Linked DNA regions of Homo sapiens. The protein of the gene in region 2 interacts with the protein of the main gene of each other region in a pairwise test. Each region holds a gene or a part of one and is shown on either strand. Other genes may lie near its edges.

Evidence for each region. Proteins that work in one complex are often made in the same cells at the same time.
Region 1: the proteins of CPLX4 (region 2) and VAMP5 interact in binary tests that used the Homo sapiens proteins (3 or more experiments, as listed by UniProt).
Region 3: the proteins of CPLX4 (region 2) and AQP1 interact in binary tests that used the Homo sapiens proteins (3 or more experiments, as listed by UniProt).

The regions. Positions count from the first base shown.
Region 1 is NC_000002.12:85,587,428-85,593,927, reverse strand, and holds the end of VAMP5 (vesicle-associated membrane protein 5), read right to left. Parts: intron 2,204-6,500; coding exon 2,066-2,203; intron 981-2,065; coding exon 771-980; 3' UTR 522-770; downstream 1-521. UniProt on the Homo sapiens protein: May participate in trafficking events that are associated with myogenesis, such as myoblast fusion and/or GLUT4 trafficking.
Region 2 is NC_000018.10:59,308,639-59,315,662, reverse strand, and holds part of CPLX4 (complexin-4), read left to right. Parts: intron 1-2,890; coding exon 2,891-2,978; intron 2,979-7,024.
Region 3 is NC_000007.14:30,907,607-30,914,873, reverse strand, and holds the start of AQP1 (aquaporin-1), read right to left. Parts: upstream 3,022-7,267; 5' UTR 2,965-3,021; coding exon 2,581-2,964; intron 1-2,580. UniProt on the Homo sapiens protein: Forms a water channel that facilitates the transport of water across cell membranes, playing a crucial role in water homeostasis in various tissues.

The DNA of each region.
Region 1 (6,500 bases), on a different chromosome or scaffold from region 2:
GCCAACATGGTGAAACCTTGTCTCTACTAAAAATACAAAAATTAGCCAGGTGTGATGGTGGGCACCTGTAATCCCAGCTACTTGGGAGGCTGAGGCAGGAGAATTGCTTGAACCCAGGAGGTGGAGTTTGCAGTGAGCTGAGATAGTGCCATTGCACTCCAGCCTGAGCAACAGAGCAAAAACTCTGTCTCAAAAAAAAAAAAAAAAAATTGGTGAAGTGCTTTCTTCTTTGTCATCGCATCTACAGTCTCATTGGTCCTCTAAGCATCCCCAAGATGACAGAAAAATAATAGATTTCATTCTCAGAGAAACAGGCTCAGATGGGGAGGACTGGTTCAAGGGTCTGCTTTGGGGGCCATTGTGTTCTTGCATCCACACTCCCTGTCTGTGTCGGGCTGGATCAAGTAGGGAAGGGAGAGGAAGGAGCCATCTCCCAGGGGTGGAGTCCTTTGGGTGATGGGCTTTTTAAGCAGCCCTAGGGGTAGAGACAGATGGGATTAACCAACCTGGGGACCTTCACACACAGATACCAGCTTTTAATCAAACAGCAGTTTTTACTGAGCTCCAGGTGGGGCTGGCCCAGCATGGCCAGTACAGCAGGCTGCCCTCAAGGGCCAGTCTGTGGCATGACAGGAAATGCAGGGGTGCACATGTTGGGGCTGCCCTTTGGCACTCACTGGGGTGGGTCAAGGGAGAGCAAACACCAAGGTCCTCTGGAGACCAGAATCGGCCAGTGCAGCCATTTGGCTTCTCCTTCAGGACCAGCTGGGTCAGTTCCCAGGCCCTGAGGCAATGCCTGCATCCTGGGTCCGTGGGGCACTACTGCTGTCACTGCTCTGAGGGAGAAAGACGACCAGCAGCACAATCAGGATGATGAGCAGGACACCAACCACCACCAGCCCCACGCAGATCCGGTAACGGATGTTCTCCCAGCACTTCTTCTGGGCCAGGTTCTGTGTAGTCTTGTTGAAGGTTGAGCTCTGCGGATACCCCCAGACACAAAGTGGGAGTTAGCTGGCACCCTCTTGGCCTGGGAGCCAGCTCCTCCCAACCCCATCTCAGTAAGGCTTAGTCTCCTCCTGCATCCTCCCCATCTTGTCTACTTTCTTTCTTTTTTTTTTTTTTTTGAGAAGGAGTCTCTCCCTGTCACCCAGGCTGGAGTACAGTGGCACAATCTCAGCTCACTGCAACCTCTGCCTCCCGGGTTCAAGCAATTCTCCTGTCTCAGCCTCCCTAGTAGCTGGGACTACAGGTGCACACCACTGCGCCCGGCTAATTTTTGTATTTTTAGTTGAGATGGGGTTTCACCATACTGGCTAGGATAGTCTTGAACTCCTGACCTTGTGATCTGCCCACCTCGGCCTCCCAAAGTGTTGGGATTACAGGCGTGAGACACCGCGCCCGGCCTTGTCTGCTCTCTTTCTATACCACCTGCCGTGGAACCCTCCCAGCCTGACTCATCTCAAACACCGGTGTGGCCCTTGACTTTCAGCCCTAGTGTCTCACCCTCAGTTAACAATGCCAGTACTCAGGCTGGACACAGTGGCTCATGCCTGTAATCCCAGCACATTGGAAAGCCAAGGTGGGAGGATCTCTTGGATCCAGGAGTTCAAGACCAGCCTGGGCAACATGGTGAGACCTCATCTCTACAAAAAATCAAAAATTAGACAGGCATGGTGGTGCAGGCTTGTAGTCCTAGCTCTTCAGGAGGCTGAGGCAGGAGGATCACTTAAGCCTGGGAGGTAGAGGCTGCAGCAAATATGATTGTGCCACTGTACTAGCCTGGGCGACAGAGTGAGACTCTGTCTCAAAGTAAAAAAGAAACAAAAAACGATACCAGTTTTCTACCTTTAAGAAGGTCCACAGCTTCAAACCAAGGCCTTCTTATCTTGTGGGGTCTATCTGTTGCATGTCTAGGCTATGGGTGCCTGAGGAAACCCAGAGGCCCCACACTGGCCCTCAAGAAGGCCTCAACCCCACCAAGGAACTGGAGATCCTGAATACAGCCCAAGAGAGACTTTCCCAATCCTCTCCCCTCCCCTCCATGCTCCCCCAGGCCTCACACCATATCCAGGAGTTGGTCTGAACGCTGCTGCAGTTCGGCCAGCTTCACACCACGCTCCAGGACCTTGCCGAAGTTGTTACGCATAATTTCCGTCACCTCGTTCGCCTGCTGCTGGCACCGCTCCAACTCTATTCCTGCCTGGACACCAAGCCCGAGGTCAGGGCTGCATGAGGCCCCCACCTGGCCCTCATCTGCCCCTGAGATCTAGAAGCCTCCTTCTCCCCCTGTAGGTGGGTACAGCATGAGAGTAACAGCATCCTTCGTGTAAGGGTATGATGTGTGCGGAGTGAAGGTCTGGCCTTCGGGGTGAGTGCGGCACACCTTAAGTCTCACAGGCTCCTCCCCTTGCACGTCAAGGCAGGGCCTAGGACCTAGGTAAGTCCCGGCTTCCAGCACCTCAGCTTCCTCTAAGCTGTCCCAAGGTGGGATCTTCCCAGGACCCCACCCTCCCACAAAGCTGATTCTTTTCTCACCTGCTCCAGAATGGCGTCTACCCAATCAATGCACAGCTGCCCTAAGGTTTCCCACTGGCCTAAGAAGGCAGCAAAGAATGGGTAACCAAGCTACCTGGCTGGAACACACAGGGAGGAGACCTACCCTACAGGCTAGAAAGGTAATTTTGAAGCAGCACACATCATAGTCTCTGCCTAACCCCTCTATCCCCAAACTGAGAAGCTCAGATCTTCCTCTTTGGGCCTCTGACTGGTCAGGCCAGTTCTGCCTCCTGGCCTGATCCTGCTCCCTATATCACTGCTCCAACTTCCCTCTCCGTCTGGGAACCTCAGTGGTACCGGTTTTTGGCCTCCAGCCTTCCACTCAGCTGGGGTCCTCACTGGGGTCCAACTTACAGAGATGAGACTAACTCTTGGATTTCCCAGCCTGGGGGGCAGCTTTGCCTAACAGAAAACACCAGCTCATTTCAGAGGACTGGGAAGGGAGGTCTTGGATCCAAGCTGGGGAAGGTTGAAATGACAGGGGAGAGAGAAAGTCTGGGTCATGTGCAAGAAAGGCACTGGGCTTTGGGTGCACGTAACAGAGAGAGACACCAGGCAGGAGGCCCTGGTATAAGCCAGAAGCCTAGGAGCAGGGACATTTCAGGGAGATGAATACCAGTGGATTAGCAAACCACAGAAACTCCTTCCTCTTAGCCTACTTCCCCACAGCCCATCCCTGTTCCCTTCCCCTCCTTACAAGAAGGGCAAGCTTCTTTTCCTGCCAGCCCACGTCACCCATTGTCTACAACAGACATTTTGGCACTTGACTGAATTCCACTTAAAACCAGAAAACTTAAGTGTTAGAAGAGATCTGGTGGTCACAGAGGGCTACCTCCCACTCAGCCAAGAATCCTCCTTCAGGATCCTTGCAGCTGCTTGGTATACAGCCTCCAAGAATTCCCACTGTATGAGTCCTATCTCCCCAGCTGGACCACAAACTCCCAGAGGGAGGGCAGGGAGCAGTGCCCTGCCTTTGTCCACCACCATCCCACCGGGAGGCCAGCACAGTGCTGACCATTGCAAGCAAGGAATCAGTGAGTGGGCCAATTACGATACAGCCTAACCAAAAGCAATTCTTATTCTCAAGAGATGTTCTCCCAGCATGTTTTTCTAGCCCTGCATGAGTTTCGAGGGGCAGGCATTTGAAACCCAAATAGGTCAATATTTACCCATGAGCTAGAAAAGCAACCTGCTTCAAGAGAGGTCAGGCAAACCACTGTAGGGGAGGCTGCGCTCACAGGCTGGAGGAAGCAGTAAGCAGGAAACACAGAGGAACAACGAAGAGAGCAGGGAAACTGCACTCTCACCTTTTCCTGAGTCAACCGTCATCACTATTATTACTACTATAGCATTCAACAAGGCTCCATCATTCAATCCTTTGAACTTCCCCACATTCAAATACTCCAAGGCAGGCTGGGCGCAGTGGCTCACACCTGTAATCCCAGCACTTTGGGAGCCCCAGGCAGGCAGATCACTTGAGGCCAGGAGTTCGAGACCAGCCTGGCCAACATGGTGAAACCCTGTCTCTACTAAAAATACAAAAATTAGCCAGGCATGGTGGTGCATGCCTGTAATCCCAGCTACTTGGGAGGCTGAGATGGGAGAATCGCTTGAACCTGGGTGGCGGAGGTTGCAGTGAGCCGAGATCACACCACTGCACTCCAGCCTGGGCAACAGAGCAAGACTCCATCTCAGCAAACAAAACAAAACAAAAAACAAAATTAAATAGTCCAAAGCAAAAACTTGAGAATGGATAAATACTCGAAAATAAGAGTCACTGCTAGAGACTGGGAAAATGCTGGATATTATCTTTTTATTTTCTATTCTAAATGCTACAGCTGTTGTTACCTTATTTTTCAACAAGGGGTGATATTTGGGTCACATTCTCCAAAGAGCTGGCTGTGCTTCCAGCTGTAATCTGGACCAGTCTCCCCCAATGCGAAGCCAGGCCTGCCTGGAGCCAAGATGGACCCAGGCCTAAAAGAACACATTCGCTCCAGGGAACACAGAGGCCTTAGACTCAAGTCTCGGGCCCTCCTTGGCCCCCACTCAACCAGAGGAAAAAGGACACTGACTATATACACAGGTCTCTGCTGGCACTGTGAGAAATAAAGCTCCAGGGACCCTGGAAGGAGGTAAGCAAGAGGACAAGGGCCATACTGCCTTACGCCACACTGTCACTCAGCATAATGTCTGCAGACAGCAGAGATGTGATAAACAGTTCCTGAATAAATGGTGCCTATATTTTTAAAGATGGGGTCTTGCTATGTTGCCCAGGATGGTCTTGAACTCCTGGGCTCAAGCAGTCCTCCCACCTCAGCTTCCCAAAGTGCTGGGATTATAGGCATGAGCCATCATGCCTGGCCTAATTGTGCCTATTCTTAAAGAGACCACTTTGCCCTGGGGAAAAGACACATGTAATACAATTAGAGAAGAGTAAAGAGTTACACTGTGCGATACAGATAGTAAGTATCAGAGCTGCCACAGAGAGGGTGCCATGGTGGGGGCGGGTGACCCCTTGAAGGATGACATGGAGCAGGGACATTCTTGCACTGAGAGATAGGGATACACCCTGACAGTGAGGACCAGGCAGAGGATGGGAGGGATGGGGCAGGACAGAAGGCAGAAAAGGTCAGGTAGAGAAGACTGGCTCCAAGCGACTGATAAAACTTAAGAGCTAGTGTGGTTTTTGAGCCACGGGTGACAGTGAAGAAGTGCTTCAGGATAATTTCTCTATTGGTGGTAGACAGGCACAGATAGAAGTAAGAAAATGGCAGAGAGGCCAGCCAGAGGGGTGGAGAAGTACCATCAGCAAGACTGCCAGGAGATGGCCACCAGGCGGGAGAGGGGTGACAAGCAGAGCGTGGAGAAAGGAAGAAGGGTGAGACAGGCATTTCTGAGACCTGAGGCCAGAAGCCTGCAGGGCTTGGAATTTTGAGCCAGGGCGAGAGGGGAGCAGTTGTGTAATTGCCAGAGAGTGGCAGTTACACAGGAAATGTTCTTGACAGACTGTTGCCCCCTGTACAGAATATCCCCTCTATGACACTCAAACCTCTCAGGTTTTTCTGGGCTCAATCTCTTTGATTCCTCCTATGAAAACGCAGTTCTCAAAACCACACCATCTGGGCCAGGCACGGTGGCTCATGCCTGTAATCCCTGGACTTTGGGAGGCCAAGGTGGGCAGATCATGCCTCTACCAAGAAATACATAAATTAGCCAGGCAAAGTGGTGCCTGCCCATAGTCCCAGCTACTCGGGAGGCTGAGGCAGGAGAATTGCTTGAACCTAGGAGGCAGAGGCTGCAGTGAGCCAAGATTGCGCACTGCACTCCAGCCTGGGCAAAGGAGTGAGACCCTGTCTCAAGAAAAAACAAAGAAACAAAAACAAAAAAACCTCCCTATCCTAACTCTCCTTGTCTCCCCATCTCCTGTCTAGTATCCAAGAAACTGTTCTAACTGTCGTCAGATGAATGGGCGCAAGTACCGGTATAACATTGCCTCCCTAAGTCGGCACTCAGCTCAGAGACTAGGAGCAGGGCTCTGCTTTGCACCCGTCTGTTGAAATCCTGCTTCTGCCACTCACCAGCTGAGTGACTGAGACTGAGGATATGACCTTTCTGACCTCCACTTCCTCTTCTGTAAAGTGCTGATAATAATGTTAGCTAAGGATTATGTGACTTATTGTAAATCAAAAGCTTAGCACAACGCCTGACACATACTAAATGCTCAATAAATAAGAGCTATTATATTGATGTGGCCCACATTTCCCTAGCTCCTTTTTTTTTTTTTAGCAGTCAGATCTCAAGAATTGTACAATATGGCCAGGTGTGGTGGCTCACGCCTGTAATCCCAGCACTTTGGGAGGCCGAGGCAGGTGGATCACAAGGTCAGGAGTCTGAGACCAGTCTGGCCAATATGGTGAAGCCCTGTCTCTACTAAAAAT
Region 2 (7,024 bases):
TTATAAAGCTTTTAGAAAAAAAAGTAGGAGAATATCTTTGCAACTTGAAAGTAGATGAAGATTTCTGTATCATGACCCAGATTGGCAATGACCATATCAATGACCATAAAATTATTAAATGATAAATTCAACTCTAAGTTAAAAACTTTTATACGTTAAAAGATGCCATTTAGAAAATAAATGGGCAAGCCAGACTGAGAGGATATATTTGGAAAATATATCTGACAAAGGACTGGAATCTAGGAAATATGAAGAACTCCTATAACTCAATAATGAAAGCAAAAACAATGGGCAAAAGATTTGAAGAAATACTTCAGAAAGATAGATACATGGCCAATTAGTACATGAAAATCTTACTGGAAATTACATGAAAAGCTGCTTAATATCATTAGCTGTCTTGGAAATGGAAAAAATTAAAATCACAGTAAAGTAGCACTCCATAAACACCAGTATGGCTAAAATCAAAAAGACAAAAAATGTTAAATATTGGCCAAAATGTGAAACCACTAGAACTCTTGTTTCAATTGTTGAAGCATAAACTAGTATGACCATTTTGGAGAAAGGTCGTGCTGTTTCTTATAAAACTAAATGCATCCCAGTAAGTTACCGTAGAACCCAGCAAATTCCATGCCTAGTTATTTACCCAGTAGAAATTAAAATATATGTCCACAAAAAAATCTAGAACAATATTCTTAGCAGCTTTACTTACTGTCACCCCAAATGGGGAACAATTCAGGTGTTCATTAACAGAAAAATGACTAGACAAATGGTGATTGTATTTGCGCAAACAATAGAATACTTACTACTCAGCAATAAAAAGGAACCAGCTACTAGTACATAAAACAACAAGGTTAAATCTCGAAAGTATTTTATGCTGAGTGAAAGAAGCCTTACACAAAGATGAACTGTATGGTTCCATTTTATGAAGTTCTAGAACAGGCAAAACCAATCTATGGTAGAAAAGGCGTGGTGGTTGCCTCTAGGGCTAGGGGGTAGGCCTTGATCAGGAATGGGGATGGGGGAATTTTCCCAGGTGAGAGTAATGTTTTCTATCTTGAGAGGGTTTTTGGGTTACACAGGTGTGTGCTTTTTGGGGAATCATTGAATGGTGTGCTTCAGAGGTTTGTGCATTGCATTGGATACAAATTTTGCTTCACAAGAAGAAAAGAGAAACTATAAACAAACATGTCACGCTAGTTAATGACATGCATATTGAAGAGTTTGGGGGAAATGTTACTGATTTCTGCAACTTCGAAATGTATCAAAAAAGTAAAATGTGGATAAAGAGAGGAATAGGTGTGATAAAAAAAAAAGTACAGTGAGATGCCAATTGTAGAATCTAGATGGATTTGATATCAAAATTCTTTCAACGTTTCTGTATGTTTGGAAGTTTTTACAGTAAAACATGGGGAGAAAAGGTCTGCTGCTTGTCCATGCCGCAGGTCGCTAATCTCCTGGACAGGTCACTTTATTCGATGTCCCTCTCCAAAACTAGAAGGTTGAACCCGATGTTCTCTCATGCCCGTTCCAGACCTGACATTCTGTGGATGGAAATGAGTTCAGAGAGCACCTGAGCCCAGGGCCTTTGATCAGTTTAAACTGATCATTTGCTGCAGCTCCTTCCTTAACACTCAGTTTTTTTGTATAATGGTTAAGATTATTTACAAACTCGGAGTCAAGACATAGAAACCAGTTTTCACCTGAAAATGAAAACAGGGGATTTGTTTTAAGCAGATAATGCTTTATGCAAAGATAGTTCACCAGATCCACAAGTAGAATTCCCATCAGGCCTCACGTGGGCCTAAACCAGAAAGCAGAAGGCTGTTGAGAGGCCACGAGCACTCTTTCCCTATCTCTTACCATTGCTTCTATCTGGGCATGGCTGCTTTGTTCTTCCTCAGCAGCCAGACTACAAGGTTAGTGGAAAATGACAGCCAATGGCTACCAAGTTCATCTGTTATTTTGACAGCCACACTGCAAGTGTCTGTCATTCTTAGTACCATTCCCAAATTTTCAAAGAGATTTCATTTACGGAGCTTGGTCTAACCCAATATAGCCAGAGGGCAGGGCCATGTATATAAATTCAGCTACCAATAAAGGACTTCTGTGGGCAGCAGGGACGGGTGGTGGTGCTTGTGAGCCTTGCAGACATTCCCAAAGGTGTCTGCTTTTGTCTGAATCATCATTAGCAAGAACGTCCATTTCAAACCAGCAACATCATGAGTTCAATTAGATCATTCACACAGCAGGACCCCAGTCTGACATTCTGGAAACATACCCTGCCTTGTTTGGGGCTACCTCCTTCCAAACTGGGAAGAAAATACCGTACCTAAATTGGGGTCTGGAGAGAGTAACAATGAAGGGAGACAGGTTTATATTATATCCCCCAACAACAACGGTCTTCAAAGAACTGCCTGGTTCTGGACACTGTGGCCCTATTTTAGTTTGCGTAAGAATCACTCGGGGAGCTTGCTAAAAATGTAGCTTCCCCTCCCCTGCACCCAGAGATTCTGATGCAGCAGGGCTAGGATCAGGCCCAGGAAGCTGCATTTGTCATAGGTGCACCAAGTGATTCTGAGGCTCATGGTCCCTGGCTGAACAGTCCACGGAAAACTCCATGTTAGGAAAAATCTCCTGGTTCGCATCACACAGAGATTCCTAGGACCAAATTGTCTTTGAGACTTAGAGGTATATACTGAAAGTTATGACAGTAGAGTAACAAACAGAGAGGCAGACGTTTGGGGACCTAGGAAAAAAATCCCATAGTTCCCAAGTGTCTGCCAGCAGTGGCATCTCAGAAGGTGTAACCCTGTGTCTGGCTCCTCTGAGCACGGGCAGGAATGTCCTTAGCTCTCTGTATCCTTCTGATCCTTTATTCTTTAACTTTTAGGATGGAAAGAGATGCTGCATTTACACAGAAAAAGGCAGAAAGGGCATGCCTCAGAGTTCATCTCAGAGAAAAATACAGGCTCCCAAAGGTAAGACACTCTGGAAACATCTAATCATTTCTTAATTAATGATAAATGGGAAGTCATGGTTGATTATCCACAAAGGATCATGTTCCTGAATATGAATATATATATATATATTCAAGATATATATATATATAAAAATATATATATTCAGGATATGTATATACATATTCAGGATATATATATATTCAGGATATATATATACACATATTCAGGATATATATATATTCAGGAGATATATATATATATATACACACACACATATTCAGGATATATATATATATATGCACACACGTATATCCTAATCATAACTGAAATGTTTGATATAGTGAAAAGAGCACTGAACTAGGAGTTCATAAAAACTTGATTCCAGTTTTTAACTTAACCTCTATGAACTTCCACTGTTGCTAAAAAAAACTGGAGTTAATACCTATAGATGACATTTTAATGTAAACTTATCTAAAGGTTCTAGAACTTCTCTATGTAAATACACAACAAGGACAATAATCATAGCTCACATTGGTTGAGCTCTTTCTAGGTACCAGGTACAGTACCTTGGCATGTATTAAGTCATTTAGGTTCTATTATCATCTCTGTCTTATCATAGAGGAAACACAGGCATGAAGAAAGTAGGTACCCTCCTGCCATGGGCCAGATAGCCAGGAAAGATAGAGCCCACGGTCCTGATTTCTATGATATTCCACCTCTATTTAAAAGGAACCATCGCTTGCTGGTTTGGGGAATAATGTAGTAGTGACAGTCATCACCTAGCACCATCTTATGCATCTCAGCACTGGCTGAGGGTGACTGCTGTAGGCTGTGGTCGAGTGAGTCGTTGGTCTCCTGGTGGGAAGGGAATGCGTTGACATGTTGTGGAACACGTCTTGGAGGTACTATTCCAGGGCTTGCATCCAGTAGTGACAGAGGGCCCATCACTTTGCTACTCTGACTCATACCACCTGACTCCACCTTCACTACCTGTCTACCTGACTAAATGACTCCACCTTCACCTTCTGAGCTGGTTATTCAATTTCATATTCCAAAGATGCGCCATCCCTTAAAGAACATCTTCCATCTGGAGAAGCCAAAGTAAAAGATCCCTCCAAAGGGCATGATCCCAAGTATGAGAGCCATCTCCAAGTCTGGGTGGTCTAGAAAGTGCTGCTAAACCAATTCCTTCCATGGATCCCCAGCAGATCCCAGAAAAAGCTGATTTTAGAAACTACAAGCACTAGACAAGGGAGAAGCCACTGTCTATGCAAGGTCACTGATGAAATCACCAAAGACTTAAACATGGTAGAGGTTGATCCCTAAGGTGCCCAAGGAACCTGGGTTCTGTTCTTAATAAGGGAAGGAAAACCCACAATAAAATGTAAGCTCATTTCATTCACAACCAATGAACTTGGAAAAGAATGCCTTGCTTTTCCTACCCCCAGCCCCGTTCAGGTTTAATAACTTTTCCTCACTGTGCTTGCATTTTGGAAGAGTGAAGCACTTCTAAACACTGTCCTTTCCACTTTCATTGTCTGGTGAATTTCCTGAAACTCCCTGGATGTCATTGGCTCACTTTAGCAATGTGGTCTCGCCCTAGGCAGGAAGATTGAGTCGGATTCATGCTACTGCGCTGAAGCCCCTGGCCTCTGCTCTTGGGCCATCTGATTAAAGCATCATCAACTTGTTGGGATGAAGCAGAAATTTCACACACACACACACACACACACACACACACACACACACACACACGATTGGCTGGGTGTGCATCGTCCAGAATGTAGGGCTTTTTACAGATTTATTTTTGGCAACTGTTATTCTTCTGTAGGGATCTAGGGAGAATTGGGGTTCCGTTGTAGCTCTGTGATGCAATATCACATGGTTTTTAAAAATATCTGAGTCTCTTAATTTATGCAGCAGCAATAGAAAAAAAAATCTGAGCCTCAGTATCCTCATCTATAAAATGAGGGCTGAAGTACCTAACTTCATAGGATCTTTGTCTGAGATAATGTAATATAAAGGACCTAGTACAACGCCTGACAATAGAGCTCTTATTATTGACATTATGATCTCTGGGCACAAAAGTCTTATTTCCTGATAATAACAACCAGGGGTCTTGAGGACCGCCAGTCCTTAGGTGTGTAATCAATGCAACAATGGAGGTTCCTGAGCCTCAAGGCCCCAAGCCTTTTATCTGTTTCTCCACTAATGGTAAATCAGCAGTCTTGCTGACTTCCAGATCTTCAGGGGTGAACACCCTTAGGCTTAGCAGTAAGGTTTAAGTACTCTTCCAAGAAAAATAATTCTTAAATCTCTGTGCCAGGGTATCTTTTGAAACAAGAGCCTTTCCAACAGAAACTATGGAAAGAGGAAAAAATGATAGCCATGAAATGCACAAATCCAGGTCCTCTCTGGAGAATGATTGTGGCTATACCTGCATAGGCTACTGCTCTCTAAAGCCAGCTAGGGGGAGGGACCGACATGAAGGATGTTGATAAATAACAGTAGAGCCCACCAGTGTCTTTCATTGCATGGCTTACTGATGTTCATATAGCCCCTTTTCTACAGCTGTTTCAAATGCATAATGCATTTGAGACCCCACCTGATTTTCTCATAGACCATGAAAGAGACCATAAAGCTCATCTAATAATCTCATACCACTGCGTCATTTTACACCTGAGATAACTGCAGCCCAGGAGGGTTAAGTAGCTTTGCAATAAGCCACATCTCCTGTGACAGACTTAGGACTGGAACTCAGGCCCCACAACCATGAAAAAGAGCAGCTTGTTCACAAAAGGACTTCAACAGGGCTCCTCCTTTCAAGGCATTTGTTCTTTCTACTCTTTTTTTCTTTTTCTTTTTTTTTTTTTTTTTTTTGACACAGAGTCTCACTCTGTCACCCAGGCTGGAGTGCAGTGGCATGATCTCCCCTCACTGCAAGCTCTGCCTCCTGGGTTCACCCCATTCTCCTGCCTCAGTCTCCCGAGTAGCTGGGACTACAGGCGCCCACCACCACTCCTGGCTAATTTTTTGTATTTTTAGTAGACACGGGGTTTCACCGTGTTAACCAGGATGGTCTCGATCTCCTGACCTTGTGATCCGCCCACCTCGGCCTCCCTAAGTGCTGGGATTATAGGCGTGAGCCACTGCGCCCGGCCTCTTTCTACTCTTAATATTTTGAGCTGTTCCCCAAAATTTTAGGGCAGTTTTGAATTCCACGTGGCTTAAAAAAATGGGAGCATATTATTTCTCCTGTGTTGTCTAACGGTTTGACCCTAGATCTGCAAGTAGCTGTCTAAATTCCAAATACAATCCAAACAAACAGATAAGAATTTCACTTGAGAACATTGTACACACCATCATTCATTGCAGTTTACTTCCAGGTGGGGACCCCCTCCTCCAAGGGCGTTTTTATATTTGGTTGCATTTGTAACAATGGATTCTACACACAATGTTTCAAAACCGTGCCTATGGTATGGAAGATACTACAAATACCAATAATACAATTGCCTGCTTTTTGTAAAGCACATGGAAATTCTAATCCCGTGTAGCTAGCTATAAAAATAGCACCTAATAAAACTATATGATAAGAAAAATCGGCTACTCTGGGCAGACTGCCCTGCTCTGCAAGGAGCAGTTTAAAAACTAAAATTTAAAAGTTTAAAAAATCAGCTGGATCGTATTCCACTTAGTCCAGTTATCACCAGCTGTGGCTAACTTCCCCTACCCCAGTGCAACACTTTGCGCTTGCAAACCAGCCCCACCCTTGGGCGCCTCCTCTGCCTCCCGCGCTGTCACTTGTCGCACGTTACCCTCCCGCCCGCGTCCCCGCACTGACGAGGCTCTGGGTACAGGGACCCTTCGATGGCCCATGTGGCGAAAAAGAGGCTGCGGGGGACAGACACGTTTCCCAGGCTAACGTCTGCCCAGGCTATGCAGAACAGCCGCTCCCGTCCAAGCCAGATCCTGGCTGGAGCAAGGAGGGCGCAGCGGTCGCCAGCGCGGGCCCCGAATCCTCGACGCCGGCGCCCCCTGGTGTTCCTAGCGCCGCGGCCACTGGC
Region 3 (7,267 bases), on a different chromosome or scaffold from region 2:
CCCTGAGTCAGTCAGGAGAAAGTTGTCCCCAGCATGTCCCGAAGGGACACCCCCTGACTCACCCCAACCACTTCCTGCCACATCTTTCTCTGTTTTCCTTGGAAATCTCCATGCCAACCACTTGCCCCACCCAGGTTTTGACTGGGCTGGGGCTCAGGGCCAGAGAGGCTGCAGGAGCCTACCCCAGGTCATGAAAGAGAGTGTGTCACCTGCTGCCCAGACTGTTCCCTGCTCCTCTTGAGGCATCCAGGCCACCCCTGAGGCCCCTCCAGTTCCAGGGCCAGTGTCTGACGGGAGCCCTTAGAGGGGTACCTTCTCTATTTCTAGGCCCAGAGTTGAGGTCCTGAACCCCACCCTTCCACTGTTGGGACAGGACAGCGCCTGAGCCCCCACCATCATGCTAAGCGCCCTTATGTTCAGCACTGCCCCTGCTGGGCTGCTCTTAGCCAGCTTTCGTGGGATGGGTGATAAGCTCAAAGCAATGAAGTGAGCTGGCTGTCTGGGTGTGGCTGTGAGGTCACAAGACCTGAGTTCCCTCTCGAGGGTCAGGGTCCGCAGCTCCAAAGAAGCTCAACAAGTTAGCAGTGGACACGTCTTGAACCCAGGTGTCTGCCTCTCAGCCCAGGGCCGGACCCCACACTAGGCTGCTCCTCTTTCTCTCCCATTTGCAACACGCCCAGCCCAAGTATTGGGGTGACTATAAAAAATGAAGGCCAGGGAGGGAATGGGGCACGGGAGGCTGGTGTGGCCTCTGTTCCAGATGGCACAGAAGGGGCCCACCCTCCCGCCTCTGCCTCGGATGCGCATACTAGAGGGTGAAGCCTTCGCCAGCAGGTGCAGAGGCTCCGCCCTGTGAGATGGGAGGGAAGAGACGGGGCCAGAAAGCCTGGAAATCACATCCACTCCCCTACAGGGACGCTCCCCCAGCCCATCATACCCAGCCAAGCTTCAGTGTGAGCTTGACCCTACCCAGCAGAACTCCCTGAGGCCACAAGCTCTGCACCCACTGGCAACTGAGGCCTGGGGGGGCAGAGCTTGATGTGGCCTGCCTGAGCTCTGTCCCGTACATCCCCCGCGGCCACGTCTAAACTGGCTAAAGTCTAAACTCCAGCCCACGGAGCTAATCTTCAATCTTGGGCCTAGCAGAGGTTGGCTGCAGAGGAGGTTGGGTGAGGTGTCACCGTGACACAGAAGTGCTAAGCCCCCCATGGCCAGGCTGAGCCAGCTGCCCTCTGCACCAGACCTTCACCTAGCCTCTCCTGGGCTGCCAGCCGCAGGATCTGAACTTTGGCTGGGAAGCGAGAGGACAGCTGCTGTAATCACTATCTGCCATCTCTGAGGCGCCCTCAGAGATGGCCCACACCGTCCCCACACCCACATGCCCTGCCCACAGCCCCGCCAGCCTCATCTCTCTAGACGAGTCCTCCTCTCTGCTCCTTGGCTTCTCTCCCTCCCTGTAAGGGCACCCCCAGGCCTGCTCACCTGTCCCTTGGGCCCTCAGAGACATCCTCCAAGCCTTCCCCAGTCTCTCAGGCCAAATCCTCCCCTGCTGTGGCCCAAGCCCGGCCTGAGTTTGCACTTGTCTGAGGAGCTGGGAAAGGCCGTGTCTGGGACAGCAGGCAGCTGCCACCAGGGCCAATTTGCCATGCTAAGCAGCCCAGGAGACATTCTTTTCCACAGCTGCCACCCAGTCACCAGCATCTGCTTGTCATTAGTGACCCCAGTCCAGACCCCATTCAAGCCAGGAGCCATGGGCACGTGTTGCAAACTCACCCCCACACACCCTTACACAGCAGCACAAACATGCACACAGTTGACACAAGCACAGAGACTCATGCTGGCAAACACATGCACACATACACACCTTCACACACACACACGCACACGCACATGCACACACACGCCACACCTCTCAGTGCCTAGAGACCATGGAGCCCAGCGCTTGCCCCCCAGCCCATACTGTAATCCAGGAAAACTGCCTTCAAACAGCCCCAGAGAGTGTTTTCACTCCCTTATCTTTGTCTAATCTCAGGGGCAAAAGAGTGGAAGAGGGCCTTTCTCTTGATTCCTAGAGGTGGTTTATTTGGAAACTAGTGTGAATATGGGGGGCTCCCTGAGGGAGTCCTGCTCACACACTTGCAGAGCCAGCTGCAGACAGGCTGGGCATTTGGTTCAGGGTGGCTGGGGACAGCGGGCAAAGTTTCCCCAGGGTGCAGGGCTGCAGGAGGAGGGAGCTGGCGGCACAGGCAGGACTGAGAAGGGCCAAAAAGCTACAGCCAAGGGGCGAGGAACTGCTGGCCAAGCTTATTCCCCATAATAGATGCCCTGCAGGGGACATTGGCAAGACCATTATTCTCTGGATCTCAGCTTCCCACAGTGCCTGGCAGAAAACAGGCTTTGGGAGGCATGCATAGCTGAGTTCCAGCCCCAGCTCTTCCCCCCAGCTCTCTACGTGACCTCCAGCAACCTCTTGTCCTCTCCGTTCCTCAGTGTCCCCATCTGCACAATGGGCAGAGGATGGAACCAGTGCCTTTCAGCATCATTCTAGAACCCCCCCAAGCCCAGGGACACCCCACTCACGTCATTGCGGCCAAGCGAGTTCCCAGTCAGGGAGGAGGTGATGCCTGAGAGGATGGCGGTGGCGACGATGGCCCCCACGCACTGGGCGATGATGTACATGAGGGCACGGAAGATGCTGATCTGGCAGCTGAGCAGCAGCCCCAGTGTGACAGCCGGGTTGAGGTGGGCGCCGCTGATGTGGCCCACACTCTGCGCCAGCGTGGCGATGCTCAGCCCGAAGGCCAGCGACACCTTCACGTTGTCCTGGACCGCCGTCTGGTTGTTCCCCACCGGGTATTTGAAGCCCAGGGCAGAACCGATGCTGATGAAGACAAAGAGGGTCGTGGCCAGGAACTCGGCCACCACTGCCCTCCAGAAGAGCTTCTTCTTGAACTCGCTGGCCATGCTGGCAGGGGGCTTGGCCTGAGACCGCTGCCGGGTGCTCAATTCCCTCTGAGAGCTGAGCCACAGCCTGGGCTGGGCCTATTTATAGGGCCGGGGGGCGGGGGGAGCACAAAGGGAGGAAGGCCTCTCTTCGCTCCTGGCCCGCCCCACACCACACAGACCTCCTCTGGATGGATGCAGACACGGCTGTGCTGTCGGCCTGCCAACTTTTTCCTTCCTCCTCTCCCCCTCCCTCTCTCTCTCTCTCCCTCCGCCCTCAGCCCTGCCCAGCCCAAGGAGGCAGGCAGGAGGCAGCCGTTGCTCTAATAGGCTTTGGGAAATTCTTCCAAGCTGGCCCCACTCAGGGAACCAGAGAAATCCAGGTGTCTCGGCCCTGTGTGCAAAGCTCAGGGAGTTCCTGAGGGCAGAGCCAGGTGCTCCGGAGTGGGTGGGGTGGGCGGGCTGGACTCAGTGGGTGGACGTTGCCCTCCCTGGAGGCAGGTACCATGATCCTGCTGGCCTGACATCCCCATCCCGACCCAGAGAGGCACTGGCCTGGAGTCCCCGGGCCCAGGGCTCCAGAGGGGCAGTCAAGTCCTCCCGCACCGCCACTGCATGCCATGTTAGGGATGTCCCAGAGTCCCCAGTCCCCCAGAGCCAGGGCTCTGTGGATGGGGGCACGGAGGCATCAGAAGTTGCAGAGAGGTTGTCTGTGGCTGCCCTGCATGCTGCGGTTGAGGGCAGGCCCGAGCTAGGCAGAGCTGTTAGAAAGCCCCCGCCCTGGGAGCTCCCAAACTTCTCGACAGCGATTTGAACCAATGATTTGAGGGCAGGCTGGTGAAGATAGGGACAGTTTAGGACTTTCCTCTCAAGGCAGTCACACTGGCGGGTCACTGGGAAGGTGGAAGGAATGGCAGCCCCACCTGGCATTGGAAGGTGCTGGAGAGGAGGGAGGGAGGGAGCAGGAGAGAAAGGCAGAGACAGACAGATGCTGGCTGAGGGGAGGAGAAGAGACAGACAAGGAGAAAGGAAAGACAGTAGCAGGGAAATAGAGCAAAAGTGGAAGTGAAAGAGACAGATCCCCCAGCCAGAGACAGTGAGACAAGCAGGGCTGAGAGAGACAGAGAGAGCGCAAAGGGCTAGGAAAAGACAAACTGAAACAGGGGAGATAGGACTGGACCCAGAGCCAAGAAGCAGAAAGGGAGAGATAAATGAGGAGAGGCAGAGAGCGGGAGGGACCAGACGAGCCCCTGCAGAGGGAGGGGCCGAGGCCCTGCTGCAGATCCCCGTGGGCCGCCTGTGCCCCGGGCATCTCCAATCCAGAGGCCTAGCGCCAGCCAACAAACAAGAATCTGGACTCCAGGGCCAGCAAGCTGTCAGGAACCCCTGGGCCTGGCCCTCTTGCCTGCTGCATGGAACGTGCTGGAAGAACCAGGCCCAGAAGGGAGGGTCCCCCTGCGTCCCCTAGGGAAGGCCTGGGATGATCTGGGCTCTCCTCCCACCTCCTGCCTGCCCCACCACAGTCCCACTCGGGCGTGTTGGCATCTTCCCATTTATAGGTGGGAAACTGAGGCCCGGTGAGAGGACTTTTCTAAGTGTGCCTGGGGCAGGGCAAGGATGAGTGGGTCTTATGCCTCTTGTCCAGGGGCTATCCTGCAGAGAATGACACCAGCTGTTACTGGCCACCCCTCTGCCCAGCTGTGGCCTGGCTCTTGGGGTGAATTGCCAGGGACCAGCCTGGTGTGTGTTTGCTGGGGCTGCAGGTGGGGAAGATTCATTCCCCTAAGTGCCTGTACAGGACGGTGGTGGCCAGCAGGCCCTGCCTGCTCAGACAGCCCAGGTGGCCGAAGGTCATAAGTACTTTCTTAGCTGTCCAGGAGAGGAAACTGGCCCCACTGGGCTACTTCCTGGGCCCTCCTCTACATCCTTTCCTCTGAGGAGCCCTGGCTCAGCATTCCAGTCTCTGGGAGGCTCCCTCATGCCCCTGGCCCCTGGCCCCTGGCCCCATGCCCTGGCAGGGACACTGACCCACATGAGGAGCTCTCTGGTCAGTTTCAGGGGCGTCCAACCAGAGCTCTCTCTGCAGGGCTAGGATCCCCTCACCTTGAAGTTTTGGAGGGCAAACTGTTTCTCCTGCAGACCTGGCTCCTGAGGGCAGGGGTGGCACCCCTTAGACCAGGGTCCTCTGGAACATGGCCATTTCCCTTCAGGCCACAGGCTCCTGGGCATCTCCCGTAGACCATGTCTACTGAGGGACATACACACCTCCTCCTCCCCTCACCTGTCCCTGCCCTGCTATGTTCTGAGGCTGTCGGGTGCTGGGACCCAGCCAAGAAGACTTGAGGAAAGAAGCAGGGGCAGAGCAGGCACCAGGCCGCAAGGAGCCACTGAACTCAGGCCAGTGTGGCCATGCAGAGTGGCAGAGACAGGAAAACGGGCCTGCATGGACCCAGGCATGTCCCGTGTGTCCATGATGGTGTCCGTGGCTGGGTCAGCATCTGTGCAGCCGAGGACCCATGATTTTCCAGGGGGCCCATGTGGGTGAGAGTCATCTGGAACTTACTAATTTATCCAACATATAGTTGGATAAATGTTTAGTGTGTGTCACATGCCAGACATTGCTCTGTGTACAGGGGAGACAGCCACGAGCCAGACAGACCAGCTCCTGTTCACATGCAGTTTCCATCTTGGTGTGAGGGCCCGCAGGTTAGGTGAGGACACGGTGGCTGATGATCGAGGTATTGCAGAGTGTGTGTGTGTGTGTGTGTGTGTGTGTGTGTGTGTGTGTGTGTGCACTCAGCAGAAGCCCTTGTTCTGCATTGGGGCAGGAGGCCAGGGGGACCAGGGGGAAGTGGTCAGGCAAAGCACTTTTGTCCAGGCAAGTAGGTGCCCACCAATCTCAGGAGGCTATGCGGGTCCTCAGGGTGTCACTCCACCACCCCTTGCATCTCCCAACCTCTCCCCCTTGTGAGTGTGGCCTCTGCCTTTAATACCACCATTATGGTGCCATTCTTTTGGAGGAAGGCATGGCTGTCGCCAGGAGGCGCCACCAGAATGCAGGCACGGCCAGGAATGCCAATACAGAGCTCACGTGCCCACCACCTCCGAGGGGCCCTGTGGCTGTTACCCGGCCATGTGGCTAAAAAGGGGAAAGGCTTGCCGCTGGAGCCCCAGGCCCAGGGACGTCTCCAACCCCTCCGCCTCCTTTTCCCTGATCTGCCACAAATCCAGGCCAACCAGAGAAGGAAGAAAGGAAGAAAGGACACAGTGTCCAGCTGGGGCCTGTTTCCTGCAACCCCGAAAGGCTCAGATTGTAAGTGACTTGCCAAGGAAAGGCAGAGCTGGCACTAAAACTCAGGATGCCCCCATCCCAGAGCCCAAATGCAGTTCTCTGCACACCTGTCAGGAAGGGCCCCCAATGACCTGGTTACCAGACAGAAATCCCAGTACAAAATCTGGGGGCTGCAGGCCCAGAGAGGTGCCAGGATGGGTTGGGGGTGGGGAGGGAGGGAGGGGACAGCCTCCAACAACCCTGTATAATTAGGGTGGTGGGGTGGGAATGGAAGCACCGGGCTAAGAGTGGGCAACAGAGGAGCTGAGGGCAGCCAGAGCCACCCCTGTGGTCCCAGTGAGCCCTAGGAGGCTGGGCTCCAGGGCAGGTACTGTGTGCAGCCCAGCTCTCTTCCAGGACTTCCTGACTTAGCAGGTGCTGTTCCCTCGCCCTCTGCTGGCTCCTGGGTCCTCCCATGGACTCGGGCCCGAGCCAAGCTAGTAAGGGGGCAGCCCCCACCCCCACTTCTGAACCCTGGGCGGGGCTTGAGGCCACTGAAGCTGGGCACTGCCTGGCCCTGCTGACAGCAATGGTCTCGGCAAAGGCTTTTCCAGATGTGCCTCATTCCTGACGTGCCTGGGTGACCCACGTTCCAGCCAGAGCTGGCTGTTCCCAGGACTGTCTGGGCCCCGTCTCCCGGTGGGAGAGCCTTGGGCTTCATCCGGAGGAGAGTGGACGGAGCCTCGGATGTTGGCTGAGGGTCCAGACCTTGGGTGTGGCTGAGGCTATCACTGGCCAGAAGCTTCTGCTAAGTGCAGGGCAGAGGGGCTGAGGCGGGATGGACCATTCCTCTGGGGCCAGCAGGGATTTCCCACCCACAAGCCTGGCTAGGGGAAACAGTGACTTCATTCCCTCCAGGAGGGCCACCAGGAAGATGGAGTTTGGGGTAGGAGGGGACTCAGACAGCAGACTGGTCCTGACCATCTAGTCACCATCAGCTCGCCCACAGCTTGGATGAATTTTCCAGAATCATTCAGGCTTTCCTGAATTGGG